Regions from separate parts of the Homo sapiens genome. Here regions 1 and 3 are each linked to region 2. The links come from fine-mapping of genetic effects on gene expression. A gene starts in region 2. Each other region holds a variant in brackets. All regions are shown on one strand. Distances are from middle to middle.

Region 1 (9,906 bases), 20 kb before region 2:
GGATTACAGGCATGAGCCACCGCACCTGGCCTCAAAACAAATATTTTCAGACCAGGTGTGGTGGCTCATGCCTGTAATCCCAGTGCTTTGGGAGGCTGAGATGGGAGGATCACTGGAGGCCAGAAGTTTGAGGTTGCAGAGAGCTATGATTGTGCCACTGCATTCTAGCTTGGGTGACAGAGAAAGACTCTGTAAAAACAAACAAACAAAAACATTTGTACACCATCTCTCTGAGTCAAATGCGCCAAAGGCTTCCTTGTCACTTCCAGGACAAGGCAGAAATCTATGTGACCCATAGGACTGTACCCGAGATGGCTGTCCGCCTCTCCAGCTCATCTCACGCCGTGTTCCCGCTCCGTCCTCCAGCCATTCTTCCATTCCTTGAAGACCATGCTCTCTCCCACCACAGGGCATCTGCACAAGCCATTTCCCAGGCCTGGGCTGTCCATCTCTAGGCTCTTTGTCTCATTCACGCCAACTCATCCCTCAGATCTCAGTTCAGCTGTCACCTGGTCAGGGAAGCCTTTTGTGACTCAGCATTCCAGCTCAGGTTCCTCTATTTTAGTCTCTCCTAGAACTCTGCTCCTCTCCTGCGTTGCACGCATCCCATTGAGGCTGCGATGTGATTAGTGTCTGCCACTAGCACCACCAGCACTAGCTTGCCTGCAAGGACTGTGAAAAAAGGAATTGTTTCTGCTCACCCACTGTTTCTCCCAATGGTTTGCACAGTATCTTAGATATAGTAGCTGCTGCAATATGAATGAATGAATCAGAATAAAATTATCAACATTCGTTCAATTTTATTAATCTCTACCATCATACAAAACATAACCTTTTCAGTTCTCATGGACTCTTGATGGAAACGGACCATGTATTCGATTCTCACAAGGCCTCATATTCAGAAAAGTGAAAACAACTGACCACCTTCTCTCACTACCACACAGTGTGACTGGGAAGAATTAAGAAAAGAAACTGCCAGGCGCAGTGGCCCATGCCTATCATCTCAGTATCTGGGAGGCCAAGGAGGGAGGATCTCTTGAGGCTAGGAGTTTGAGACCAGCTTGGGCAACATAGCAAGACCCCGTCTCTACAAAATAAATAAGTGTGTCACGGTGGCGCCACCTGTAGTCTCAGCTACAGAGAGGCTGAGGCAGGAGGATCTCTTGAGCCTAGGAATTGGAGGCTACAGTGAGCAGTGATCACGTCACTACAATCCAGCCTGAATGATAGAGTGAGACCCTGTTGCTTAAAGAAAAAAAAAAAAAAACTGGAATCCAAAATCAACAAGGGTTCAGGCATAGTGGCTTATCCCTATAACCCCAGCACTTTGGGGTTACAGGAGGATCACTTGAGCTCAGGAGTTTGAGATCATCCTGGGCAACATAGTGAGACCTCCATCTCTACTAAAAATTTTAAAAAGGCCAGGCGCAGTGACTCACGCCTGTAATCCCAGCACTTTGGGAGGCTGAGGCAGGTGGATTGTCTGAGGTCAGGGGTTCGAGACCAGCCTGGCCAACATAGTGAAACTCCATCTCTACTAAAAATACAAAAAATTAGCTGGGCATGGTAGCGGGTGCCTGTAATCCCAGCTACTAGGGAGGCTAAGGCAGGAGAATCGCTTGAACCCAGGAGGCAGAGGTTGCAGTGAGCCGATGTTGTGCCATTACACTCCAGCCTGGGGGACAAGAGCAAAACTCCATCTTAAAAAAAAATAAAATTAAAGAAAATTAGCTTAGTGTGGTGGTGTGCACCTGTAGTCCCAGCTATGTGAGAGGCTGAGGCAGAGGATCACTTGAGTCCAGCACTTTGAGGCTGCAGTGAGCTATGATCATGCCACTGCACTCCAGCCTGGGTGACAGAGCAAGACCTCATCTCAAAAAAGAAAAAAAAACAAAAAACAAGGGCTTTGTCTTTTTCTCTGCTGTATCTCCAGCACCTAGAATAAGTGCTCAATATACATTTTTGAACAAACAAATAAGAATAGAAAAATAAAATCGATGATCTGCTCAAACATAGGAGTGTCAAAGTAGGAAAATAGGAGAGAAAAGAAAATTAGAGGTTCGACCAAGAAAGTACAACATCAGACTTCTAGGAATTTAGAAAGCAAACCAAAAAAAAAGAGTGAATCAAGCTGGGTACAGTGGCTCACACCCATAATCCCAGCACTTTGGGAGGCCAAGATGGGAGGATCACTTGAGCCCAGGAGTTTGCGACCAGCCTGGCAACATAGCAATACTCTGTTTCTACTAAAAATAAAAAAAAATTAGCCAGGTCTGGTGGCAAATGCCTGTAATCCCAGCTACTCGGGAGGCTGAGGTGGGAGGATTGCTTGGGCCCAGGAGCCTGAGGCTACAGTGAGCCATAATTGTACCACTGCACTCCAGTGCGGACAACAGAGCAAGACCCTGTCTCAAAAAAAAAAAAAAGTGAATAAAATTATCAAAGAAATAATGTAATAGTTCCAAGAATTAAAGAACATGGAGGAAAAAAACATGGATCTCTAGATGGAAAGACCCACCACGTGCCCAGCTAAATGAATGAAAAATGACCCACATCAAGGTGTTCTGGTGTTCTGGTCAGTAGGTGGCATAAATAGATCCCAGCCCAGCGTGGTGGCTCCATTGCTAAAGATCTGATCAGTGGTGACCTGGGAATGTCCTGGAGGAGGGAATGCTGTGGCAGCTGTGATGATGCAGAATTTGAAGGCTATCCAGGGTGGAGGTGGGACAATGCCAGGGAAAGTGCCGAGGTGGCTGCTCACTGCTCAATCGTCCTGATGCTCTATCTGCAGCAAGTGAGAAACTGAGAACTGTGAACAAGCAGTTCACGGCTAAGTGTGAGCACCAGAGAGCCTTGGTATCGAGGAGTGTAAAAAAAGGCTTTTTTTTTTTTTTTTTTGAGACAGAGTCTTGCTCTGTCGCCCAGGCTGGAGTGCAGCGGCACCATACCATTCCACTGCACCCTCCGCCTCCGCCTTCCGGGTTCAAGCGATTCTCCAGCCTCAGCCTCCCAAGTAGCTGGGATTACAGGCGTGCACCACCACGCCCGGATAATTTTTGTATTTTTAGTAGAGTCAGGGTTTCACCATGTTGGCCAGGCTGGTCTCGAACTCCTGACCTCAGGTAATCTACCCACCTGGGCCTCCCAAAGTGCTGGGATTACAGGTGTGAGTCACCATGCCCGGCCTGAGTGGATAATCTATTGAAAGAACTAACGAAGTTCTTCAACATAACCAGATAAACAGAAATAAAAACGAAATATGTCAGCAATAAACAATTTTTTTTAATAGTGGGTGACTTCTGGTTTGCCCCAAGGTGGTGAACTAGCATATAGGTTGTTGGCTTCCTGCCTTAGCCAAAGCCTGAGTGCTATAGAGATTAAAGGAAAGCATATTGATTCAGGGAACTAAAGATCAGAAGAAAATTCTAGGGAGAGAAGGCGGTTGTGAGCAAATGTAGAGGGGAGCACAGCAGACCTGAGTGAGGCAGAGCTGGGGGCTATGGCGGATGAATCGGGACCCCTTCCTACTTCAGTTATTAACTAGAAGGATTCACATGACCTGATGAGGTTATATCACAGCTAAGGTTGACTAAGCGAAGGATACACCACGGGACCAGAGAGAAAGATACACATAGACAAAGTCCAGGGAGGCCGAGAGCAGGCTGCACGGTGTGTTTCTTTCCAGGTGTGAACCACAGAGATGTGAGATGTCTCTGCCCAGGGAAACACCCAGGTCTCAAAACCTGTTGTTCTAAGAAGATGGTCACATAGGCACTTTCCTGCCACATGACCAGCCATGGTAACCAAAACACAGCACTCCAAAACAGAGGCCAGACGCACATCCTAAGTTTTTTTTTTTTTTTTTTTTTTTTGAGACAGAGTCTGTCTCTGTCCCCCAGGCTGGAGTGCAGTGGCACGATCTTGGCTCACTGCAAGCTCCGCCTCCTGGGTTCACGCCATTCTCCTGCCTCAGCCTCCCACCCCCGGCCCCGAGTAGCTGGGACTACAGGCGCCCGCCACCACACCCACCTAATTTTTTGTTTTTGTTTTTAGTAGAGACGGGGGTTTCACCGTGTTAGCCAGGATGGTCTCGATCTCCTGATCTTGTGATCCGCCCGCCTCGGCCTCCGAAAGTGCTGGGATTACAGGCGTGAGCCACCGCGCCCGGCCGCACATCCTAAATCTTGATGTTAAACATTCTGACATCTGACAGGCTGCTCATCCTGCCCCAGTGCACCAGGCCTACAGATTAACATTCATCAGTAACTACATGCACCTTCCAAGAGTTTCCTTCTCAGCTTGTCCCAGGTCAGTGCCATAGCTCCAGGCACTCCCAGAGAGCAGCAAAGACTGAGTAAGCCAGGCCTGCTCACAACAGAAACGCAGACTGTGGAAACCCTTGGCCTTTCCTCTTGCCTCTTTTAGAACTCTCAATAGAGCCATCTGGGCCAGATACCGTGTTTTTTTTTTTTTATTAAAAAAAAAAATACTGAGCTGGAAGCATTAATGTCCACCTATTTTAAGTGTACAGCCTTCGTGACTCTTTCCACATGACTATACCTGAACCACCACCACTCGGATCAGAATATAAAACCTTTCCAGCACCCAGCAAGCTTCTCTTGTGCCTCTTGTCAGTGGCCCCCAAGGTAACCACTGTTCTAATTTCAGTCACCACAGATTAGTTTTGCTTGCATTTGAAATTCATGTAATACAGTGAATACATTATGAAGTCTTGACTATAAACTTTTTTGAGACAGAGTCTC[G/C]CTCTGTCCCCCAGGCTGGAGTACAGTGGTGCAATCTCGGCTCACTGCAACCTCCGCCTCCCGGGTTCAAGCGATTCTCCTGACTCAGCCTCCTGAGTAGCTGGGATTACAGACATACGCCACCACGCCCAGCTAATTTTTGTTATTTTTAGTAGAGACAGGGTTTCACTCTGTTAGCCAGGATGGTCTTGATCTCCTAACCTCATGACCCGCCTGCCTCGGACTCCCAAAGTGCTGGGATTACAGGCGTGAGCCACCATGTCTGGCCTACCTTTTTTTAAATTTAACTTTGTTTGCTTGTTTTGAGATGGGGGTCTCCTTATGTTTCCCAGGTTGGTCTCCAACTGCTGGAGCATCCTCAAGCAATCCTCCTACCTCAGCCTCCAAGTAGCCAGGGTTATAGGTGCACGCCACTGTGCCCAGCTTTGAGCCTAACCTTTTTTGCTTAATGTTACATTTGTAAGATTCAGCCATGTTAGCAATTTATGGTCAGTAGTTCATTCTTTTTTATAGTTGTATGTATGCTCATTGTTGGAATACAGCATTTCTCCTCAATAATTGTACCAATTTACCCTTCCGCCTGCTCTGAGAGGCAATTCCAGTTGAGTTACATTTCCACTGACTCTGTTAGGAGATGCCTTTTGTGGGGACAAATGTTTAACTCCTTTTCAATTTGTTCTAGTCTTACTGGTCTGTTTTTTGTGTTTGTTTGTTTTTTCTGCCTTCTCTAGAATCAATTCTGTGTATTTGTTTTCCTGGAAGATAAATCATTTATGTAGATTTTAAATTTCATCAGCATGAGTATGATAGTTTTTTTTTTTGTTTGTTTTGTTTTTTGAGACGGAGTCTTGCTCTGTCGCCCAGGCTGGAGTACAGTGGCACTATCTCGGCTCACTGCAACCTCTGCCTCCCTGGTGCAAGCGACTCTCCTGCCTCAGCCTCCTGAGTAGCTGGGACTACAGGTGCATGCCACCATGCCCAGCTAATTTTTGTATTTTTAGTAGAGATGAGGTTTCACCATGTTGGCCAGGCTGGTCTCAATCTCTTGACCTCGTGATCCTCCCACCTCAGCCTCTCAAAGTGCTGGAATTACAGGCGTGAGCCACCGCGCCCGGCTGAGTATGATAGGTTTTGGTATGCCATGTTTTCATTTTGTGTATTAAATATAAAATACACAAAAATCAAATTGTATTAAAATCTCGTACCAAAAACATGAGTCCCCTGACTCGCCCGTCTCACTTCCTCGGACTCTTTTAGTATTTATATGTTTATCTTTTTTTTTTTAAGATGGGGCCTTGCTATGTTGCTAATGCTCACGTGAGCGTGGAAGGGAACGGAGTTTCAGATGAGACTGCAGTCCCTTGCTTTCAGTTTGTGAGACCCTGGACAGAGCATCCAGCTAAGCCACGCCCAGACTCCTGAACCATGAAAACTATGAGATGGGTTTGTTTTTTTGGTTTTTTTTTTTTTTTGGTTTTTTGACAGGGCCTTGCTCTGCTGCCCAGGCTGGAGTGCAGTGGTGTAATCTCAGCTCGCTGTAGCCTCGAACTCCTGGGTTCATGTGATCCTCCTAATTTAACCTCCCAAGTAGCTGGGAGTACAGGCATGCATCACTGAGCCTGGCTAATTTTTTTTTTTTTGTAGAGACAGGGTCTCACTATGTTGCCTAGGCTGGTCTTGCATCCCTGGCCTCAGGTGATCTTCCCTCCTTGGCCTCCTGTGTAGCTAGGACTCTAGATATGCGGCACTGCGTCCAGCTAATTTATTTTTTATTTTTTGTAGAGATGGGCTCTCCCTGTGTTGCCCAGGCTGCTCTTGAACTCCTGGGCTCAAGCCATCCTCCCACCTCGGCCTCCCGAAGAGCTGAGATTACAGGGCTGAGCTGCTGTGCCTGGCCCTTTAAGATGGGTATTTCTTCAAGCCACTAAGCGTGTAGTGATGTGTTGCTAGAGTAGAAAACCAATACCAGTGTAGCGTCGCTTTCTCATCAGCTCCAGCCTGTCCCCAGCTGGGTGACACTGGGCTTCGACCGCAGTCATGGGCCCGGCAGCCAGGAGAGGAGGTGAGGGCCGCTGCAGAGGGGCACCTGTGGCCTTGTTGGGAGCGGCTTCCGCAGACTCTTCCAGTAGCAGAAGCCCTCACCTTCCTATGGAGAGGCAGCCACCCTCTGCACCCTGGAGAGTTTGGGCTGGAGAGCAGCATCAGGGGCATCCGTTCAGATGGCTCCGTTTTCCGGATGCCAGGTTTTCCTTCCCACGCCCCTGCCCTTGGCCTAAGCAATCTGCCGGGGCTGAGTCTTCAGGCTCTGGAGCTCTGCAAATTCCTGTTAGGTCTCTGGCCTGCCTGCACCATGTCTGCCCTTCTGCTACACATAAGAGCCTTTTTTTTTTTTAACCTGATACACAATAATTGTACATATTTATGGGGTACGTGTGATATTTTGATCCATGCATAAAATGTTTAATGATCAAATCAGGGTAACTGGGTATCCATCACCTCAAACATCTATCGCTTCTTTGTGTTGAGAACATACTAAATCTTCTAGTTGTTTTGAAATATACAAAAAATACTGATAACAATAATCACCATATTGTGTGAACACTAGAACGTATTCCTTCTACTAAACTGTATTTTTTAAAATTTTCTTTTCCTAAGATGAGTCTTGCTCTGTTGCCCAGGCTGGAGTGCAGTGGCACAATCTCCACTCACTGCAACCTCCACCTCCCAGGTTCAAGCGATTCTCCTGCCTCAGTCTCCCGAGTAGCTGGGATTACAGGCGCACACCACCATGCCTGGCTAATTTTGTATTTTTAGTAGAGATGGGGTTTTGCCATGTTGGCCAGGCTGTTCTCGAACTCCTGACCTCAGGTGATCCACCCGCCTCCGCCTCCCAAAGTGCTGGGATTACAGGCGTGAGCCACCGCACCTGGCTGAACCCATTTTTTAAAAGGGAAGGCTGGGTGCGGTGCGTTACGCCTGTAATCCCAACACTTTGGGAGGCCAAGGCGGGCCGATCATGAGTTCAGGAGATCGAGACCATCCTGGCTAACACGGTGAAACTCCGTCTCTACTAAAAATACAAAAAATTAGCCGGGTGTGGTGGTGGGTGCCTGTAGTCCCAGCTACTCCGGAGGCTGAGGCAGGAGAATGGCGTGAACCCAGGAGGTGGAGCTTGCAGTGAGCCAAGATCACACCACTGCACTCCAGCCTGGGCTACAGAGCGAGACTCTGTCTCAAAAAAAAATAATAAATAAAGGGAAAACCACACACTGTATGAGTCCTTTTGCAACCAGATATCTGACAAATGATTAGTATCAAGAGTAAACACGTGGGACAATTACAAATCAATTACAACCCAAAGAAGAAACAGACAATAGCAATTCACAGCAGAAACCAGAATGACCAATCACCACGTGAAAAGACGTGCAGTTTCTCAAGAAACCAGGGAGATGCAAGTTAAAATCACAACCATATTGAAGAACGTTTGTAAAATCTGTGGGTGCCAAGGAACGGGGAGAATGCGCGTCATCAACCCTCGCATATGCATAGAGGGTGATCCGACCACTGATCCAACCTCTGGAGGGCCATTTGGCAATATCTGGCGAAGCTGAAGAAATAAACAGCCTTAAGGCCCAGCAAGCCCACTTCGATTTAAATGCTCACAAGTTCTCACATTAGAAAAACACACATGCCAGAATGTCCACTGCATCATGGTTTATAGAGTAAAAAGCAGGAAACTACCTCAATATAGTTTATCCCATGGGACACCATGCAGCCATCCACATAAATGAACTAGAACTTCACGTATCAACATGGAAAAACCAAATTGCTAATATTCAATCTTCATAAAAAGTAACTTAGTGCCGTGAAGCACATCTCAACAGATTTCAAAAAATTCAAATAGTGCAGAAAATGTGCTGAGACCACAATGCAATTAAGGTAAAAACCAGCAACAGTAGGTATGGAGTTTCCTGCTGGGGTGATGAGAATGTTCTGGAACTAGATGGTGGCAATGGTTGCATAACATGATGAATGTCCTAATGCCACTGAGTGTACACTTGAAAATGGTTAAAACTGTAAACTCCGTCACAGTTTTTAAAAATCATTAACAAAAAATACCTCAGAAAACCCCATATTAATAAAATAATACTCTTTGGCCAGGCATGGTGACTCACACCTGTAATCCCAGAACTCTGGGAGGCCAAGGCGGGCAGATCACTTGAGCCCAAGAGTTTGAGACTAGCCTGGGCTGGTCACATGTTTAGTAGAGATGGTGAAACCCCATCTCTACTAAAAATACAAAAAATAGCCAGGTGTGGTGGCGCCTGTAGTCCCATCCACTTGGGAGGCTGAGGTAAGAGGCCCACCTGAGCCTGGGAGGTCAAGGCTGTGGTGAGCTGCGATTATACCACTACACTCCAGCCCAAGCGAGAAGAGACCCTGTCTCAAAACATAATAATACTCTCCTAAATAACTGATAAATCAAAATAGAAAGCACAATGGGCCTCAGAAAACTGAGTAATAAGGAAAATATGACACTAAAATGTATGAGATGAAGCAAAAGCCACACTTAGAAATGTATGAATTCAGGCCAGGCATGGTGGCCCACGCCTGTAATCCCAGAACTTTGGGAGGCCGAGGCGGGCGGATCACCTGAGGTCAGGAGTTCAAGACCAGCCTGGCCAACATGATGAAAGCCCGTCTCTACTAAAAATACAAAAATTAGCCAGGCGTGGTGGCGCATGCCTGTAACCCCAGCTACTCGGGAGGCTGAGGCAGGAGAATCGCTTTATCGCTTGAAACCGGGATGTGGAGGCTGCGGTGAGCCGAGATTGCGCCACTGTACTCCAGCCTGGCAACAGAGCGAGACTCCATCTCCAAAAAAAAAAAAAAAAAGAACCAAAGCATGGAGAACTTGTCCCAGAGGGCTAGAGGGAAGGAAACAGGTGGCCTCTCAGCTACATGCAATGCAGGCCCCTGGACCTTGAGAAGAGCTGACTTCGCAGACACCGTGCCAGCTGGCACAATCCGAGTGGAGTGTGCAGATGTGAAAGTTGACCAGGGTGGGAAACGGTCCTGTTGTTCTGTAAGTGAACGTCCTTGTCCTTAGGAAATCTACACTGAGGAAACTGTATCCAGAGGG
Region 2 (9,906 bases):
AAAGGTGGGGAAAAGATTGAGAAATCGGATGGTTGCTGTGTCTGTGTAGAAAGAAGTAGACATGGGAGACTTCATTTCGTTCTGTACTAAGAAAAATTCTTCTGCCTTGGGATGCTGTTGATCTATGACCTTACCCCCAACCCTGTGCTCTCTGAAACATGTGCTGTATCCACTCAGGGTTAAATGGATTAAGGGCGGTGCAAGATGTGCTTTGTTAAACAGATGCTTGAAGGCAGCATGCTCCTTAAGAGTCATCACCACTCCCTAATCTCAAGTACCCAGGGACACAAACACTGCGGAAGGCCGCAGGGTCCTCTGCCTAGGAAAACCAGAGACCTTTGTTCACTTGTTTATCTGCTGACCTTCCCTCCACTATTGTCCTATGACCCTGCCAAATCCCCCTCTGCGAGAAACACCCAAGAATGATCAATAAAAAAAATAAAATAAAATAAAATAAATACAAGAATTAGCCAGGCGTGATGGTGGGCGCCTATAATCCCAGCTACTTGGGAGGCTGAGACAGGAGAATCATTTGTACCCAGGAGGTGGAGGTTGCAGTGAGCCAAGATCGTGCCACTATACTCCAGCCTGGGCAACAGAGTGAGACTCCGCCTCAAAAAAAAAAAAAAAAACTATTTTATTAAGGAACACCTCTGCTGCTGGACAATACTCTACCAAGTGCTAGAAATACGCAGGTCTCCAGCTACTCAGGAGGAGGTTGAGGCAGGAGAATCACTTGAGCCCAGGCGTTCAAATCCAGCCTGGCCAACATGATGATACCCCTGTTTCTAAAAGAAAATTTTTTAATTAAAAAAATTTTAAAAAGAGGGTGTGGTAGCTCAGGCCTGTAATCCCAGCACTTTGGGAGACGGAGGTAGGAGGATCATCTGAGTCCAGGCGTTTGAGACCAGCTTCATCAACATGGCGAGACCCCCATCTCCACAAAAAGTTATAAAAATAAAAATAAATGAGCCAGGCATGGCGGTGCACACCTGTGGTCCCAGCTACTGCAGGAGGTGAGGCATGAGGATCACTTGAGCCCTGAGCCCGGGAGGTCAAGGCTGCAGTGAGCTGTGTTTGTGTCACTGCACTCCAGCCTGGGCGACAGTGAGGCCCTGTCTCAAAAAAACAAAAACAAAAATAAATATGCAGTTGTCCAAGACTCACGGTCAGGCCTAGGCATGAACCTCACCAAAAGCCTTTTTCTCTAGCTTACCAGCAAAACAGAATAAGGCTAAACTAGCTCAAGCCGCCTCACCCTCCAAGCACCTTCAGATCTCCCTGGACAGAGACACACCCTCCTTTTCACCCCGGAACTTGTTGGTATAAAACCCTGGAATAAATGGCACATGAGCCAATCGCTCCATAACTCCATCTCATCCCCAGAAACACAGTGGGAACCCAAATTCCCAGAAAGAGAGTAAAAGGATGAAACTCTCCTAGGTGCGTTCAGTTCCTCATACTCACCTAAAATGCTTGGTCACACGTCCCGACAGGTAGCAGAATGAGGGTGACCCCATATTCCTCTTACAGATGAGGGAATTCACACAGAAAGGGTATGTGGTGTCAGTGGCCAGGTCTAGGCCACCAGGAGGCAAGACAGAACCCCAGCCTCCTCCTCCCTACACAGCGCCGCCTCCCTCTGACTAATGCGACACTTCTCAATGAGCTAGAATCAAAAGTTGTAGGAATTCACAATTCCCACACCCAAAGGACCTCACTAGCATATACCATCGCCCTCAATTTTCCCCCAGCTCCTGTCTTCCCTCCTTTCTCACCATCAGCATTTTCTTTTACAGCATCTACCAGCTGGGCGCGGTGGCTCATGCCTGTAATCCCAGAACTTTGGGAGGCCCAGGCGGGCGGATAACAAAGTCAAGAGTTCGAGACCAGCCTGGCCAACATGGTGAAACCCCGTCTCTACTAAAAAGACAAAAATTAGCCGGGTGTGGTGGTGCGCACCTGTAGTTCCAGCTACTTGGGAGGCTGAGGCAGGAAAATTGCTTGAACCCAGGAGGCAAAGGCTACAGTGAGCCGAGATCGCACCACTGTACTCCAGCCTGGGGACAGAGCGAGACTCCATCACACACACACAAAAATAATTTAAAAAATAAAGCATCTACCTGTGGCTGTGAAAGACATGGCAGTTCCACTCACTCCCACTCTGGTGTTGAGACAGCAAATTTCAAAAGAGAGGAGCACCGCTCTGGGGCAGCACCTAAGAGCACAGCCTTCTCCATCCCATCCCAGAGCCTGGACACAGTCACCTCACCCCATTTTATCAGTGGTGACAGGGGCTGTTTCCCAGGCCTTCTCACTCTGAAATTTATCTCTAGATTTCAGGCAACAAACTGTGGCCAGCTACAGGAACATTCTAGAAAAAAAGTGGGGACAAAAGCAATAACCATGGTAATGTGCACTCGTTAAAGGGCCTCCTGAAAAAGAGACAGGGAGACCAGCACCGAGGGAAGGAAAAAGGGGTGGCAGGAGAGGGAAGAGACGAGACAGTCAAAAAGGAGAAACCCAAAATATAATTAAGCAGTGGCTCACACCTGTAATCCCAGCAGTTTGGGAGGCTGAGGCAGCCAGGTCACCTGAGGTCAGGAGTTCAAGACCAGCCTGGCCAACATGGTGAAACCCCATCTCTACTAAAAATACAAAAATTAGCCAGGCATGGTGGCGGGCACCTGTAGTACCAGCTACCTGGGAGGCTGAGGCAGGATAATCACTTGAACCTGGGAGACAGAGGCTGCAGTGAGCCAAGATCGCACCACTGCACTCCAGCCTGGGGGACAGAGTGAGACTCCATCTCAAAAAAAAAAAAAAAAAGAAAAAAGAAAAAGAGAAGCAGTCAAGGGAAAAAAATGGGTTCGGGTTTGTCCATCGTTTCTGACCTATGTAAATTGATGGTAATTAACTAACAGCAGCCAGGCGCCCGTCCCAGCCCCAATATTTTAGTATTTTCTACAGAGAGGCCTGACCTTCAGAGCTATCTCAAGGGGTGGCCTCCTAGAGCCCCCTGCAATGGTCACTCTTGGTTCCTAGTGTCTGTGACCCAGCAACCCTGACCTGCACCCTGAGAAGAGGCAACAGCACTGATGAGGCTGAGCCTGGTGGTCTCCAGACTCCCAAGAGAAACCGTAAGAAACTGTAAGACCCCTTTCCCAGCAGTGACAGACAAGGCAAGCCTGCAGCACCTGCTGCCTTCATATCTGGGAAACGGTTAGTGGGTCCCTCATATAAAAACAATGTTTTACGTCCCTTTTAAAACTCATTTTTAAGGCCGGGTGTGGTGGCTCACGCCTGTAATCCCAGCACTTTGCGAGGCCGAGGCGGGTGGATTGCCTGAGCTCAGGAGTTTGAGACCAGCCTGGGCAACACGGTGAAACCCCGTCTCTACTAAAATACATAAAATTAGCCGGGTATGGTGGTGTGCGCCTGTAATCCCAGCTACTCGGGAGGCTGAGGCAGGAAACAATTGTTTGAACTCAGAAGGCGGAGGTTGCAGTGAGCCGAGATCGCGCCACTGCACTCCAACCTGGTGACAGAGCAAGACTGTCTCAAAAAATTTTTAAAAATAAAAAATAAATTAAAATTAAAATTAAAAAAAAAAACAGGCAAGGAGAAGAGGCCGGAGAGGTTTGACTTTTCACAAATCATTAATTAAACAACTATCTACTACTGAGTGTTTACACCAGGTGCTGGACATCTTTAGGTCAGCGTGTACGGCAGTAACATCTTCAACGCGTAGCTGCAGACAGACTGAATGCAAATGGAAGAACACAGTGGCACGGGAGGGAGCGCGCTGATGGGAAACTCAGGGGAGAAAACAGTTCAAGCAGGCCGGGCACGGTGGCTCACGCCTGTAATCCCAGCACTTTGGGACGCCAAGGCGGGCAGATCGCCTAAGGTCAGGAGTTTGAGACCAGCCTGCCCAACATGGAGAAACCCCATCTCTACTGAAAGTACAAAAACTAGCTGGGCGTGGTGGTGCCCGCCTGTAATCCCAGCTACTGGGGGCCGAGGCAGGAGAATTGCTTGAACCCAGGAGGCAGAGGGGTGCAGTGCGTTGAGATTGCGCCACTGCCCTCCAGCCTGGGCAACAGAGCGAGAGTCCATTTCAAAAAAAAATAAGTAAATAAAAAAGAAAATAGGTCGAGCAGGCTGCCGCTGATGAGCTCCATGACCTTGGGTATGTTATTTAACTTGTTCACAAGTCTGAGTCCATGGGGTATATAATAATACTACCTTTGGCCGGGCGTGGTGTCTCACACCTGTAATCCCAGCACTTTGGGAGGCCGAGGTGGGCAGATCACCTGAATTCAGGAGTTTGAGACCAGCCTGGCCAACATGGTGAAACGCCGTCTTTACTAAAAATACAAAAGTAGCGGGGCAGAGCAGTGCACGCCTATAATCCCAGCTACTTGGGAGGCTGAGGCAGGAGAATCACTTGAACTCAGGAGGCAGAGGCTGCAGTGAGGCGAGGTCGCACCATTGCACTCCAGCCTGAGCCACAAGAGTGAAACTCCGTCTCAAAAAAATAAATAAGAATAGTACCTTCACCTCACAGGACCGTTGTGAGGAACAGATGAGATAACCCATCTCAAGAACAGTGCCTAGTGCATGCCAAACACCCTAAAGGCACTATTTAGAATGAGCACAGTGGCTGGCACAGTAAGCAACTGACCATCCACCACATATTACTGTTGTCCCAGAAGTTAAGTCCTGGCTACTGGCCACAGGCTGGACAAGGGAAACTTCCAGAGCATTTTCTGGGTTCCAGGCCCTGCTTTGGGGTTCCTCTACCAGAGTCCGAGTGCCGCTGACTGTCACTGCCACCATTCATCCAGTAGCAGAGGGCAGACCACTATCGTGGGCTGCTGAGGTTGCACTCTCACCTGAGCCGCTGGGAAGAGATGTTCCTTATCCACCTGGGCTGCAATGGGAAACAACTCCTTCTCGGCAAAGTCCCGGCATGTCTGGAGCAACATCTGGTGTGTCTCGGGCAGTTCCACAGACTGGTAGATGGTGTGTAACTGCCGCCAGGCCCTAGGACAGAGAGCTGCCGGCAAGGGCAGAAGTGAGTGGAAGGAGGAGGCAGGAGGTCTCCAAGAATCCTAGTGACCCACTAACTCACCAGGGAGGATTTTGCCCTCCAAGGGACATCTGGCAATGTCTGGAGCCAGTTCTAGTTGTCACAACTAGAGCAGGGGAATACTATTGGTACCCAGTGGATAGGGGTCCGGGATCCCTGCTGAACATCCAACAAGGCAGAGGACAGCCCCCACAACAAAGAACTGTCAGCCCAAAATGTCCATGGCGGCCACTGAAAACCCCATACTAACTGAATGCTTAGTACACTCACTAGACATTTCCATACACTACATCCTTCAGTCCTCAGTATAATACCAACAGTAATAAGACCTCAGCTCTGTGACCTTAGGCAAGGGTTTTAAACGTCAGTGAGCCTCCGTTTCTATAACAAGTGGAGGCGAATAGTATTCCGCTCCTCGGAGTGCGAAAGAAAGACTAACTAGCGCTTAACACAGTTCTCAGTAGCGTTCCCCTTGTAATTCAGGCCAGGCAAAGGAAGCCGTGGCTATATGTGTCACGGCTGCTACAACTGGAGACACGTAAGATGGGAAAGGTACTGTATTAACCAGCAAGAACGAGCATTTGTGGAACACCTGTTACACGCCAGGCACGAAGTGCTTTACATACCCTATGATTTAATCCTCCCAACAACTCTGATTTTCTCTGTGGACATTTTACACATGGGCCAACCGAGGCTGAGGAGGGGCTGTCTTGCCCAAGGTCACAGATGCGGGTCTGGTTCAATCCCAGGCCTGGCTCCGGAAGAAGGACGCACCCTGAACCTCTAGTGGGGGTGAAATGAAGGGAGGGAGATATGGGAACTGGGAACTGGGCTGGTGGCTGGGGTCAATCGGGGGGTAGGGGTCTGTGCAGGAACCAGGGACGCCTGAAGGGCCGGGCTGGGTCGGCGCAAGGAGCAGCAGAACTGGGGCAAAGGCCGTGAGCGCTCCCGGAGTGGGGCTCCGCCTGCCAGCGGCTCTGACAGAGCCGGCCGCCAGGACCTCCGCCCGCTGGGCCAGACGCGGGCTGAAGCCCCGCCGTACGGATCCCCAGCGCACTCACCTCTGCGGGCAGGGCCCGAGGCCCGGGCGAGCAGCGCGGCGGCCATGGGCGACAGACACAGTCCCAGGCTTCGCGACCTCCCGCTGCGAGCGCGCTGTTCCGGAGTGCTGGGGGGCGGGACCCGGGACAGAGGCCACGCCCGTAGGGCCTCGGGAGCGGGGCCGAGGTGCGCTCGCGGCCAGGGGGCGGGGCCTCCAGTGGTCCCTCCCAAGGCGAGGAACCGACGCTCGACTGCGCGCGCGGTCGGTCAGCTGGCTGTTCGTGCCCACATTCGTTAATCAAAATGCTAACAAGAGAAAGCTAAGGATAGAGCTTCGCAGAAAGGCCAGAGAGGTCTTTTTAAAGCATAAATAAGATAGCGATCTTCGGGTTAAAACTTTGTTGGCTTTGTCGGCGGGCCCATCCCTCCTAAAATCCAATTCTATGGCTTAAAAAGCCAAGACCTGCCTTGTCTATCAGGGCCCATGCCCACCGTTCCCTGGTTATTGTTGCTTAGCTTTACGAGGCAGCTCTTCTCTAAGACCCTTAGCTGGTTCCTGACTCGGGGCCTCTGTGATCACTGTTCCTTTTGTCTGGAATGCCCCCTCTTCGTTTAGGTCTCATGGATGCCTGCCCTGACCACACCAAGCCGTTTCTCCCCCTCTGGCTCTCTATCTTTCGTTCTGTTTATTCAAGGCACTTTGCATCTGAAATTATCTGCTTCCCCGACTCGCTCCGAGAAGCTCAAGGACCTGTCTTGTGTTGGTGCTCAATATTTAGGCCCCTGGAGTTGGGCTGCAAGGAAAGCTTTCTTTTCCCCAGAGGCTGTGAAGGTGGGTGGAGATGCTACCCCCGTTCCACTTCAGTACTGTGTCTCATTCCCGATTGGGGCAGAACCCAGACACATATTTGACCCCTAGCATCCTCATCAGGACACCTTTGCCCCGCCCAAGAAACTATGCTGATTTTACTTGTCCCATAAGGGTCTTCTCTTGTGCAAGTGTGATTCTGATTCCCATAGCCTCCTGGGCACCACCCACGCCCTCCCAGGCACCCACACATCCCTCCAACTGCCTTTCTTTCCCAGCACTCAGCCAGGCAGGCATCTGTTCCCAGCATTGACCTATTTGCCAAAACTTCTGTCTCTTCCTCTTGGAGGAAAGTGGAAACCTCGGTCACTACTTCCTAGAAGAAAGCCAATCAAAAGATGCAGCAAAGTCCTTAATGTGTTACCTTTCTTTTTAAATAATGCATTTAAAAGAACGCCTCTAAATTCTCAGTACTTTAAAGTCAAATGAATGGCTCCCATTGGCAAATGCTCTAAGGGCTTCCTCACCTTTCCGTCATCCCACCTGGGAACCAGCCCTGGGTGGAAGAAACGATGAAGAAGCAGGAGAAAAGGGAGAAATAAGTGAGTTGTGTTTGTGAGCAAAGGCCAATAATTGCTTCAGGTGCCACAGAGCATCTAAACCAGACTCTTGAGAATTTGTGACTGTAAATATGAACGTTCAAATTTCATTTTAAAAGTATCCAAGTTTTCCAATAGAGACAGAATCAGATAGTGGTTGCAAGAGGCGAAGTGGGGGAAGTCACCTGGCTGCAAACACAAGGAACTCAGGAACTTTCTGAGTGGGTACGATGGAAATGTCCTATATCATGATTGTGATGGGTAATAAAAGTATTCATTTGTCAAAATGCATCAATACTCTTAATTGAGGTAAATTTTACTGTAGTTAAAGTATTTCTTAATAAGCCTACCTTTATGGCCAGCCACAGTGGCTCACACCTGTAATCCCAGAACTTTGGGAGGCCAAGGCGGGTTGATCACCTGAGGTCAGGAGTTCAAGACCAGCCTGGCCAACATGGGGAAACCCTGTCTCTACCAAAAATACAGAATTAGCCGGGCGTGGTGGCATGCACTTGTAATCCCAGCTACTTGGGAGGCTGAGGCAGGACAATCACTTGAACCCGGGAGGCGAAGGGTGCAGTGAGCCACCATCATGCCATCACATCCCAGCCTGGGAAAAAAGAGCGAAACTCCATCTCAAAAAAAAAAACCCTACCTTTAAAACATGCATGTAAACTTTCAATTTACAAAGCCACTCACCCTGGGAAAATATAAAGCAAAAATATTAAGCCTAAAGTCCAGTACAATTCCTCAATCACCCTAGAAGCCAGCTATACTCTAGTTCAACTACTTACAGAAGGGCCACATAATAGCCAAAGTAAGAGAAACCTGGAGCCCCCATTCGCCCCTGCTCCCCTCAGCAACACAACGGGCCCAACAATCAGGAGACAGGACGAGGGAGACGTACTGTGAAAATCTTTCTTTTATTACTGTCTCATGTGGCAAAATAACATTTTATACAAATAAGTCACCTAGTTTACTTTGGACACAAAGACAATAAAAACTGGAATGTGATTTTGGGGGAAGCGGGAAGGAGGAGGAAGGACAGATCAGGTCATTGATGTTTCTTATATTCTGTAAAAAATAGATTTACAGGAAAAAAAATAGACTTTCACAACTTCAATGACTTTACACGGTCCTTTGTAAAACCAGTGGTAAATCCACCTCCACCAAATCCTTCTTGAGGCTGATATGTTCTGTGACATGGAATGTGAGTAACACAATGGTTCAATGATTAGGCTCCTACACCAGGTACAGCAGCACCTGATGCCACAGGAATCCTCGTGCACTGGGGTGAGGAGTCAGTCCTGTGAATTTCAGGACACACTGTCCTCATCCCCAGACCTCACTGACATCATAGTGACACTGGCCATCAGAAGAAAGTGACTTTACAGAGGGGAAAAGAGTATCCTGGAAGCGTACCGGTGGGGCAGGACACACTAAGGCAGGACTCACCCAGTTTGTACATTAGACACAGCCTATTAAATCCATTCCAGAAATGAGTTCCACTTCAACTGAAAAAATAAACTGAAGATTGCCCAATCACTGCCATTTCACAAATTTCCAGTTTATGGTCAGCCCCAAAATCACATTCTTCCACCCTATGTATTGGAAATCAAATGGCCCAAAGACTGAGGTGTCTTCAGGAAGCACATGCTTGAAAAATGTTTTCTCTGCAAAACAGTATTGAGTAATACATAAGGAGACATAGCCTACTTTAGCCCAAAACTTCTTTCACTTGTTATGTCCTTTTACCTCTTAAAACATAGAATGAAATAAACTCGGATCTTCTTTGGAGAAGCTAGAAGGGCATTTTGGCCCAAAGGCTGTACAGGAAAAGAGAGGCTCTCTCCAGGAGACTGCAAGGCAAAGGAACAGAAGCAGGAGGGGCAGGCCCTCTGGCACCAGGTGGGCCTGCTACTCTGATGAAATGTGCTCCCAGCTCTTGACAAAGGGCAGGGTCTCCTATGCAGGTAGTTTTTTTGCCGCCTCCCATTGTATCACCCACAAGGTAACTGCTATCAACAGTTCAGATTCCTTAATAACATGGCAGCCTGAATGGTTCTGTTACTTTCAGAGAAAGTATGCCTTGCAATTCTCTCCCCAACTCAGGTACAAACGCTTGAATTTCAAACTCATACTGGTTTACACCCCAGAGTGGAATGCTTCTCAAGATTTCCTGAGCAGCTAGACACAGGAACCCACAGCCCCAGATACAGAACACCAGACTTTCAGAAGCAGCAAAGCCCTGTCCTGCTGGGCATGGACCAAGCACTATCCGCAAATGGTCTCCAGTGAGACTAAGGCAAGCTAACAAGGAAGAGGATACAGCACAACTCAAGCCAGATTGCCCACCTCCTCCT
Region 3 (9,730 bases), 41 kb before region 2:
TACTTTCTTCGTGCCCTTGATGCCTTGCATTCCATGTATTCACCTGTAAGTCCATGAACAGATCACCCTAGCCAGTATCTATACACAAACCTGTGTCTCACCTGTGCTCTGGCCCGATGGGCTTCCCACCTGCTGCTGACCACTGTTGTTCCTCCAGCCAGATGAGCTGCTCCCTGGTAATGTCCTGGTTATTGACTCATGACACAACCAAATCTTTGTTTCCTAAAGATGATGATCATGGGAGGTCCTGTCCTTTCAAATATGCGTGTGAGTTGATCAGAGCAGGGGCTCTGGGTACATCTCTCAGTGTCCTAAACATCATGTTTCAGTCATCCCTTTGCAGCTCTGAATGCTCTGAGCTTTGTCAAGCCTCACTGACTAATACATTTCATTAGGTTCATTTCAAATGACATGCATTTGTATACATTTTACCAGGTTGGTTGTATGAATTTATTTAAAAATTAAAGGAGACCTTAGTATAATAAACATTCTATATGATTATAAAGTCAGGAATTAGATCTTGACCACATCTCTCCAGAACTCACACTGCAGCTCACCCTGTAACTCAGTGAGCGCTTGATAACAGTGATGATAGTGGAGATGAAGATATATATTTTGCTCTTCCTAGGTTGAATACTGTCTTTCCAACTCCTCTGAGTTGTAGGGATGAGGCAGCTTTTTCTCCTCTGTGTTTATATTAGCACCGTGCACACAGTAGGAACCCATGAAACAGTAATTTAGTTGATGTGTCCAGGGTCTGCCAAGCTGCTGTATTTATCCACTTTATTACATATATTGACAATTTACCACCAGTTCTATGAAAATGAAATATATCTGTTCATATGGCTTTTTACTTTCCTTAGAATAATTTGAAATTTGAAGTTAATAGAACACAGTTTTGCATTCATTCAGCAAGTATTTATTGAATGTCTACTCTGTCAAGTGCTAGGGATCCACAGAAAGAATCAGACATGGTTTCTGTTTCCCAGGAGCACGTGGTCAGCTAGCACAGGGAATAAACTTACCAGTATGTAAATATTCACAAGGTCATAGAATGGATGAGTGAGTTGAGAGACATTCAACGTTCTATGGCACATCACATAGAAGAAGCAACTGGGCCGGGCGCGGTGGCTCATGCCTGTAATCCCAGCACTTTGGGAGGCCGGGGTGGGTGGATCACCTGAGGTCAGGAGTTTGAGACCAGCCTGACCAACATGGTGAAACCCTGTCTCTACTAAAAATGCAAAAATTAGCTGGGTGTGGTGATGGATGCCTGTAATCCCGGCTACTCGGGAGGCTGAGACAGGAGAATCACTTGAACCCAGGAGGTGGAAGCTGCAGTAAGCTGAGATTGCACCATTGTACTGCAGCCTGGGCAACGAGCAAAACTCTGTCTCAAAAAAACAAAAAAAGAGCAGCAGCAACTGACTGGTTGGATCAGGAAAGACTCTGAGAAAGGACTCCTGACCTGGCTCTTCCAGAATGAGGATGGATTTTCCATATGAAGGAGCCGGGGGCAGGACCTTCTGGGTAGAGCGTGAAAAGAACACAGTATGTGTGGAGAGCGGGAAATTGTGTTGAACTGTCTAGAAAACAGAGCCACAGGAATGCGTGTTGAGGGCTTGGGCTGTACAGTGGAGAGTGCCCTCCCTGGCCAGGGAGTTGGACATTCATCCCACCACAAGACCCCATGAAGAGTTTCTCAACAGCTCTGTGTCCTCATCAAACCTGTGTTTGCAGAACAGTGGAGGAAGAGAGCTGAAGGAGGGGAGAGGCCCTGCACCTGCCAGGCCCTGGCCTAGACTACAAGGGTGAGCACTGAGCCATGCTCTCGGGGAACCTTCACTGGAGTTGAGGGCAGTGAGAATGTTTAAAAAAAAGAAGAAATTATGTATATCAGAAGTTGAGAAATGAAAAATAAGACAAGGGCAGGAAGTATGATCTTAAATGTAATTGCAGGAAAGTCCACCTGTCATTGAGAAGCTAGTACTTGCGTGAAGAACTGTGAAAGACGAGGAGCGGAGCCAGTTGGGTTCTGGGAGGAGATCGTTCAGGCAGAGGGCACAGTAAATGCAGAGCACTGAAGCGGCGGCGTGGCCGAAGCGGCGGCATGGGGGGTAGAGTGAGGAGGCTGCTGTGGCTGGCAAAGGAAGTAGCAGGAGGTGACCTGAAGGGTCACCGTCACAGCAGGACCTTGTCAGCCAGTATGAAGACTGTGGCTTTTACTCTATGGGAAGTTGTTTAAGAGTTTTGAGCTAGGGGCCCCATAAAACCTGCCTTAGGGTTTAAGAAGCTGCTTCTGTCTGCACTGTGAAGAAGAGACTTGTTAGGGGTTAAGTTGGAGGCAGAGAGGCCAGGGAGGAGGTCATTGCAGCAATGCACGCCAGGAGAGGATGGCGGCTTAAGCCAGGCAGGGTGTAAAAGAGAGACGGGTCAAAAACGACATCACAGATTTCCGTCTGCACAATTGGAAGCAAAGAGTAAATGCTTGGAGACAGAAGACTGCACTGTTAAGAGCTGAGTTTGGACATGTTAGATTTGAGAGGCCAACTAGACAGCCAAGTATATATGTCTCTTAGGCCACAGGATGTATGAGTCTGGAGCTCCAAGAAGAGATTCAGGCTGGAAATTAAAATGTGTGAGTTGATGACATATAAGATAGATAGTGTCAAGAGCCTTGAGATTGGACGAGATCACTGAGAGAGGAAAAGATCTGAGGAAAGGCCCGTGGAGTTCTGGGAATTGAGGAGGAGCTACAGAGAAGCCTGAAAAGGCCAGTGAGTGGGGAGGAACAGGAGAGCACATTGTCCTGAGAATCAAGGGAAAAGGAGGGAGCCATTAGCTGGGCGGGTTGCTGCCTAAAGGTCGGGTAAGAGGAGGACAGGTCGATTACTGTGTCTAGCAATGAGGGGATCCTTGGCAAGCCCCCAGGAGCAGTGTCAGTGGAGTAGCAGGGATGAAAGCCCTGCTGGAAGTGATCGAGCACTCAAATGATAACATCTAATTTATGGGAAATATATGGGATAGAGGAAAAGCCAACCACTGCAATAGAGAAGCACAGAAAAATCCAGATGACTCCAGTTTCAGCAAGTCATTAAAAAAAGGACTTTAGGCTGGGCATGGTGGCTCACACCTGTAATCCCAGCACTTTGGGAGAACAGGGTGAGAGGATTGCTTGAGATCAGCCTGGGCCACATAGCAAGACCTCATCTCTACAAAAAATACAAAAATTATCCAGGTGTGGTGGCACATGCCGGTGGTCCCAGCTACTCAGGAGGCTGAGTATTGCTTGAGCCCAGGAGGCAGAGGCTGAAGTGAGCCAAGATCGCATGACTGCACTCCAGCCTGGGCAACAGGGCAAGACCCTGTCTCAAAAAAAATAAAAGTGGTGGGGTGGACTATGTCAGATTGGAAACCAGCACAGACAAACCATCTGCAAAAGATGTTTTGGGGTCTATAGAGAAATTTGATTAAATGAGGTGAAAATTCACCCAAATGGAAACTGGGGGTTGTTGGCTTTGGTGGAGGGGGGGAACAGATTGTGTGATCTCATTAGATTAAAAAAAAAAAGTATGTAAAAAATTATTGGCTGGGTGCAGTGGCTCATGCCTGTAATCCCAACACTTTGGGAGGCCAAGGCAGGTGGATCACCTGAGGTCAAGAATTCGAGACCAGCCTGGCCAACATGGTGAAACCCCATCTCTACTAAAAACACAAAAATTAGCTGGGCGTAGTGGTGGGTGCCTGTAATCCCAGCTACTCGGGAGGTTGAGGCAGGAGAATCATTTGAACTCAGGAGACAGAGGTTGCAGTGAGTCGAGATTGTGCCACTGCACTCCAGCCTGGGTGATACAGCGAGACTCCATCTCCAAAAAGAAAAACAAAATTCTAGGAAGATATTGAACAGTGGTAATCTCTGAAAAGTGGGAATGTAATTTTTTTATTTTGCTTTACTGTATTCTCTAGTTTTCTATAACGCAGTTAATGAATTGCTGGGATGATGCCTCCAGTGAATGAAAGGGGGTGCTATCTAGGGTGTGAGTTCACTTTAAAGCAGGGAGCAAGGACAACACATCCACAACATTGGAGGGAAGGCAGGAAAAGAGAGCTTGGAGGTCTTGGACTGGTTTCCTGGGTCTCCAACAGCCGAGCACTATGTCTAGGAGGAGGAAAGCAATCACCCCAAATTCCACAAGTCCAAACAGGCTGAAGAAGCGGGTGTTTTGCACCAGTTGCATGTAAGTTTCTGAAGCTGGAGCTTAGGGCTGCCTGATTTTTGAGGGAATTGCAAACTCTGTGAAGGGCCATAGCTTGTGGAAAGAGGATGAGCCTGGAGTCCACACTGACTGCTGTCTGCTGTACCCTGTCTCCTCCCCAGCACTGGCCATGGGCCTCTGTGTCGCCATGATCGCCTTTGTCCGCCTGCCGAGCCTCAAGGTCTCCTGCCTGCTTCTCTCAGGGCTTCTCATCTATGATGTCTTTTGGGTAAGCGTTTATGTCCTTGGAGCTCCTCCCCTTCTTTGTGTTGAAGTGAAGCATTCATGCCTGAAAACTATTAACTAGAAGTATCCAAAGTCGGGCTTGCCCAGCTGCTGATCACTCTCTCTCCAGTCCTTAACTGTATCATGGGTGTGCAGTCCGATCCTTTTGTTTGCTGAAAAGTCGTACAGTAGGTAGTGTGTGTGTGTGACTCCTAGGATAGAAGAGGTAACAGGCTGACAAGATTCGCTGCAGTGGGGGCCACCCCGTCAGGGAGTAATCTCTGGGTGTGGAGAGTGCAGAAATTGGCAAGTACACAGGAAGAGCAAAGATTTTCTCAAATCATACAGTCAACGAAAGCATTGCAGTCACAGCATTCTGAGACTCTGCTCTTAAGAGCAAGGAGGGCTGATGCTGAAAGCAGGTTGCTTCCAACTCCCTCTGTTAAAGGCATCTCTCCAACTCGGCAGGTATTTTTCTCAGCCTACATCTTCAATAGCAACGTCATGGTGAAGGTGGCCACTCAGCCGGCTGACAATCCCCTTGACGTTCTATCCCGGAAGCTCCACCTGGGGCCCAATGTTGGGCGTGATGTTCCTCGCCTGTCTCTGCCTGGAAAACTGGTCTTCCCAAGGTAAGACCTCATGCTATGACAGGACCACACTGTCTTCCTGTGCCTATCTGTTCCCGGCCTTGATCAGTCTCTAATGTCATCAGCATTCTGATCCCAACCTGGGGCCATTATCTCCATGCTGCAGAAGAGGAAATGAGGATGAGATTCTTGGCTTGCCAAGAAGGATCACTGAGTGATCCAGGCGGTGCCTTTTATTATTGATTAATGTCAGCAAACAGCCATGCCTTACTGCTGTTTCCACTGTTTAGAGTTGGCTGGAGGGAGTTAGGAGAATCTCGATCCTTTTAACTTGTAAGATATTTATAAAAATAAGTTCTAATGGTAGAATTATACAACTCCTGGTAATATAATCTTGGCAGAATGAATGTGCTGCTTTAATCTTCCACCTGTAATAGTAGCCAGGTGCTTATTTGAAGTCTCAACAGTGAATGTGTCACAAATGATGAATTGTTTGACATTTCTAGAGGAAGCAGCACTTATGCAAATCACTTCAGCAGTCACTTCCAAGGGGCTCTCCTGAAACAGGGGGGCCAAGGTGGAGACCTCTAGTGCCAGTACTGTTGCAGCTTTTTCTCTCTACACTCTTAAAACTAATGTTCCATCAGAAGAGATTTCCATCTGCCATGCAGATAAGCTCTTTGACTCCTTAAAAAGCTAACAAACTTTGCACAAAAGGAATAGAAACTGGATTGTAGAGTGTGACGTCACTAACCTGTGAAACTGCATTCCAGCTCCACTGGCAGCCACTTCTCCATGTTGGGCATCGGAGACATCGTTATGCCTGGTCTCCTACTATGCTTTGTCCTTCGCTATGACAACTACAAAAAGCAAGCCAGTGGGGACTCCTGTGGGGCCCCTGGACCTGCCAACATCTCCGGGCGCATGCAGAAGGTCTCCTACTTTCACTGCACCCTCATCGGATACTTTGTAGGTAAGAGAACCAGAGAGACTGCAGATGATCCTCGCTCTGGCTGTCCTCCAACCTTTGGAATTAAATCAGGTCTTCTAGCTACAGTTACTGGATGGAAGGAGAGCAGGAATTCTGGGTG[C/T]TGTAATAGACAGCCTGGCCCGTGAGATGCTAAGTGTTTTGTGTACTGGATAGGCCAGTTCCCTCTCCAGCTGTGTATCTGAAGAACGTTGTAGGAAAAGCAGGTCAGTCCTCAAAGCCAAGGACACACAGCACACAGTGCAGTGGATTAGTCTGTGCTTAAATCTTCCTCTAGAGTTGAATGACTGTCGTATTTATTTCCTACTTTATTCAATAGATACTTACTTACATTCATTAGTTCTACATTTCTGCCACTCTGACCTAGGCCAAGTTTTGTAGCCAGCTCATGTGTAGGCAGACAGGAGATGATTGTGATGGGGCTGGGAAAAGCAGTAACCTGCCCGCACATGCAACTGCTCCCGCACAGTGACTGGAAAGGAGCTTTTGCACTCCGTACGTCCTCCTCAACCCCAGCACTGTCCTCGTCCCACAGCAGTTCATTCACATGGGTTCATTTCAGTCCACAAACTCAGAGGGGCAAGGCAAGTGGCATTATCCCCATTAGACAGATGAGCAAGCTGAGGCTCAGAGAGGTGGAAGGTCTGAACTACATTTATGTTAGCTATTGTGAGTAGCAGAGTTGGAACTTGAACCCAGGTCTTCTGCCTCCCAAGTCCAGCATCACAGGAGACAGAGGCACACTTGGAGCTGGAAGGAGGGTTTGAACCCAGGAACCTGAGCAAGGAGTGAGACTTGGGTCAGTCATGTGTCCTTGGAGTTGTAGGTGTTTTTTAAAGCTGTGCTGATCCACATTTCTTCAACTGCCCAAGCTGGGCATTTCACACCCCAACCATAGAATGGACGACAGCACATTAGATCTGTACAGTTGCAGGACTTTGCCCAGCAGCAGCCAGGTGACACGGGTTCCCTCTCGTGTCTCACAGATGCCTCTCTCTCCTCACAGGCCTGCTCACTGCTACTGTGGCGTCTCGCATTCACCGGGCCGCCCAGCCCGCCCTTCTCTATTTGGTGCCATTTACTTTATTGCCACTCCTCACGATGGCCTATTTAAAGGTGAGAGCAGCAGTTATAAACCTGTGAAAGCAATAACTTGGATTGGCCTGTGCCTCGGTTTGCACTCTCCTCGCTGGAGGTGATTCTGCTTAAGCCCCTGAGTGAGCTTGTGATCTCGACTGTGTGTGTGTGTGTGTGTGTGTGTGTGTGTGTGTGTGTGTGCGCGCGCGCGCTACCCTGGCGTTAGCAAACGCTTCCAGATTCGTGCAGCCACTGACAGAAAATGCTGATGAGCTAGACCACTACACCACCTGGTCGAGGAATAACTAATTGAAAGCCCCAGAGCCCAGCTGAGGGTACTTCCTGCTTCTGTTCAAAGCAGTGCCCTCCTGCCACCTAACAGCTTAACACTACGTTAAAGTTTGGGAATAATTAAGATTGAATAGTGTTGAGGCAGCATATGATAAAACCAGAGTTCAAGAGCACATTATTTCCCAGATATCTATTCTCAGCCCCGTTTTACAGATGAGGAAGCAGATACAGAGGTCAACTTACTTGCCCAGCTCACTTGACTCACTACCTCTAGAGAGTTGATAAAAGCCCTTTTCTTGCTCAGGGAGCCTAAAAGCACCCCTTCTAGGGAGTCCTCCTAAAAATAGTGGGTTATTTTTGAATGGGTAAGATTTAAATGCTCTTTGGTTTCCCACAGAAGCAATCTGATCTCAGATCAAGCATCAGAAAGGGGCCAGGGGCATGGTGGCTCACGCCTGTAACCCCCGCACCTTGGGAGGCTGAGGCAGGCGGGTTAAGAGTTCAGGACCAGCCTGGCCAATATGGTGAAACCCTGTCTCTACTAAAAACACAAAAATGAACTGGGCATGGTGGTGAGTGCCTGTAATCCCAGCTACTCAGGAAGCTGAGGCAAGAGAATCGCTTGAACCCAGGAGTCGGAGGTTGCAGTGAGCTGAGATCTCGCCACTGCACTCACTCCAGCCTAGGTGACAGAGTGAGAACCCATCTCAAAAAAAAAAAATATCAGAAAGGGGCCAAGCGCAGCAGCTCATGCCTGTAATCCTAGCACTTTGGAAGGTCGAGGCAGGAGAATTGCCCGAGCCCAGGAGTTTGAGACCAGCCTGGCCAATATATAGGAAGACTTCATACCTGGAAAAAAAATTTTTTTTTTTTAAAGAATCAGACAGCTGTGTGTGCCTCATGTTTAAATCTGTAACTTAGAAAGTCCCTTGTTTCCCAGGGCGACCTCCGGCGGATGTGGTCTGAGCCTTTCCACTCCAAGTCCAGCAGCTCCCGATTCCTGGAAGTATGATGGATCACGTGGAAAGTGACCAGATGGCCGTCATAGTCCTTTTCTCTCAACTCATGGTTTGTTTCCTCTTAGAGCTGGCCTGGTACTCAGAAATGTACCTGTGTTTAAGGAACTGCCGTGTGACTGGATTTGGCATTTAAAGGGAGCTCGTTTGCAGGAGAGAGGTGCTGGAGCCCTGTTTGGTTCCTTCTCTTCCTGCGGATGTAGAGGTGGGGCCCCTTCCAAGAGGGACAGGCCTCTCCCCAGCGCGCCTTCCTCCCACGTTTTTATGGATCTGCACCAGACTGTTACCTTCTGGGGGAGATGGAGATTTGACTGTTTAAAAACTGAAAACAGCGAGGAGTCTTTCTAGAACTTTTGAACACTAAAAGGATGAAAAAAATTAGCAAACCGAAGTTTCTTCAATGACCCCTCGAGAACTTTGGGACCAGTTTCCTATAGGGGACTCAGTTTCAGAGAACTGAGACAGAAGCTCTTCTGTCGTTATATTCTTCTTTCCTTTTTTTGGATTTATTAAATATTTTCTGTGGTGTGAAGTGACTTATTAAATCCACAGACATTGAGTGACTTCTTACAACATCCACATAAGAATTTGTTGTAATGAGTTCATGTCCACCCAGATGTTGTGTTGGCAGTGAACAAGGGCACGGTTTTTATACATACGTACATATATATATATAAACACACACATAGATATATATGAATAAACAAAAATGAAATCCTGCTAAGATCACGCTGTGTAGCTGACAGGGGCTTGCTGTCGTTTTGAGCATGTCGAGCAGTTTACTGTGGCTTCCTTGTATATGGATAAGCTGCTGTCCTTCCCCTTCACAACTGACCCCGCAGTTACAAACTAGTATAGCATTTGTGCTGATTGATGATAGACTCATGGACTTCAGGAGCCCTTACTTGGTTTTGATCAGTGTAGCAAATTAGGGATGAAGAGTTCAAACCTTTTGGCCCTTTCTTTCTTTTCTAGGCTTCTCCCTCGCAGGGTGTTCCGTAGTTTCTTCTCGAGCCAATGCATGTATTATAGCAGCAGGTGTCTTTGTGCTTTCTCATCATAGTAACGTACTACTTGTAAATACATTTTTCTATTTTCTATTTTTTTGTATTTTTTTTTTTGACATTTTGTTTCATTGGTGTGCTGTATATTTTCCATGCCCTCACTCCTTTAAGAAAAAAAAAAAGGAAAAAAGCAACACAATCCTGTCCTTGCTGTTGTGATTATAGTCTTGGTTTACCTGTGGTGACAACCGGGTGTTGGGGACACATGTCAAATGCCCCTCTG

Evidence for each region. PIP is the estimated chance that this variant, and not a neighbour inherited with it, causes the effect.
Region 1: its variant is fine-mapped to the expression of ACADS in testis (GTEx, PIP 0.97).
Region 3: its variant is fine-mapped to the expression of ACADS in thyroid (GTEx, PIP above 0.99).

The regions. Positions count from the first base shown.
Region 1 is chr12:120,742,200-120,752,105 of GRCh38, reverse strand. No RefSeq gene overlaps it. Among named protein-coding and RNA genes, the nearest start is that of ACADS, 21 kb to the right of the region's middle. RefSeq lists a silencer at 4,186-4,401. The variant G/C (reference allele first, on the strand shown) is at 4,764.
Region 2 is chr12:120,722,182-120,732,087 of GRCh38, reverse strand. ACADS (acyl-CoA dehydrogenase short chain) reads right to left here and starts at 6,262. Exons shown (of 10, transcript NM_000017.4): 1 at 6,157-6,262; 2 at 4,899-5,062. The coding sequence starts at 6,202. It overlaps UNC119B (unc-119 lipid binding chaperone B), which reads right to left. Exons shown (of 5, transcript NM_001080533.3): 5 at 8,448-9,906. It overlaps MIR4700 (microRNA 4700), which reads right to left and starts at 8,895; the gene lies at 8,822-8,895. RefSeq lists a silencer at 5,943-6,452 and an enhancer at 6,089-6,590.
Region 3 is chr12:120,763,708-120,773,437 of GRCh38, reverse strand. It overlaps SPPL3 (signal peptide peptidase like 3), which reads left to right. Exons shown (of 11, transcript NM_139015.5): 7 at 4,379-4,485; 8 at 4,950-5,113; 9 at 5,845-6,044; 10 at 7,066-7,175; 11 at 8,368-9,730. The coding sequence ends at 8,439. Among named protein-coding and RNA genes, the nearest start is that of ACADS, 43 kb to the right of the region's middle. RefSeq lists an enhancer at 1,636-2,136. The variant C/T (reference allele first, on the strand shown) is at 6,163.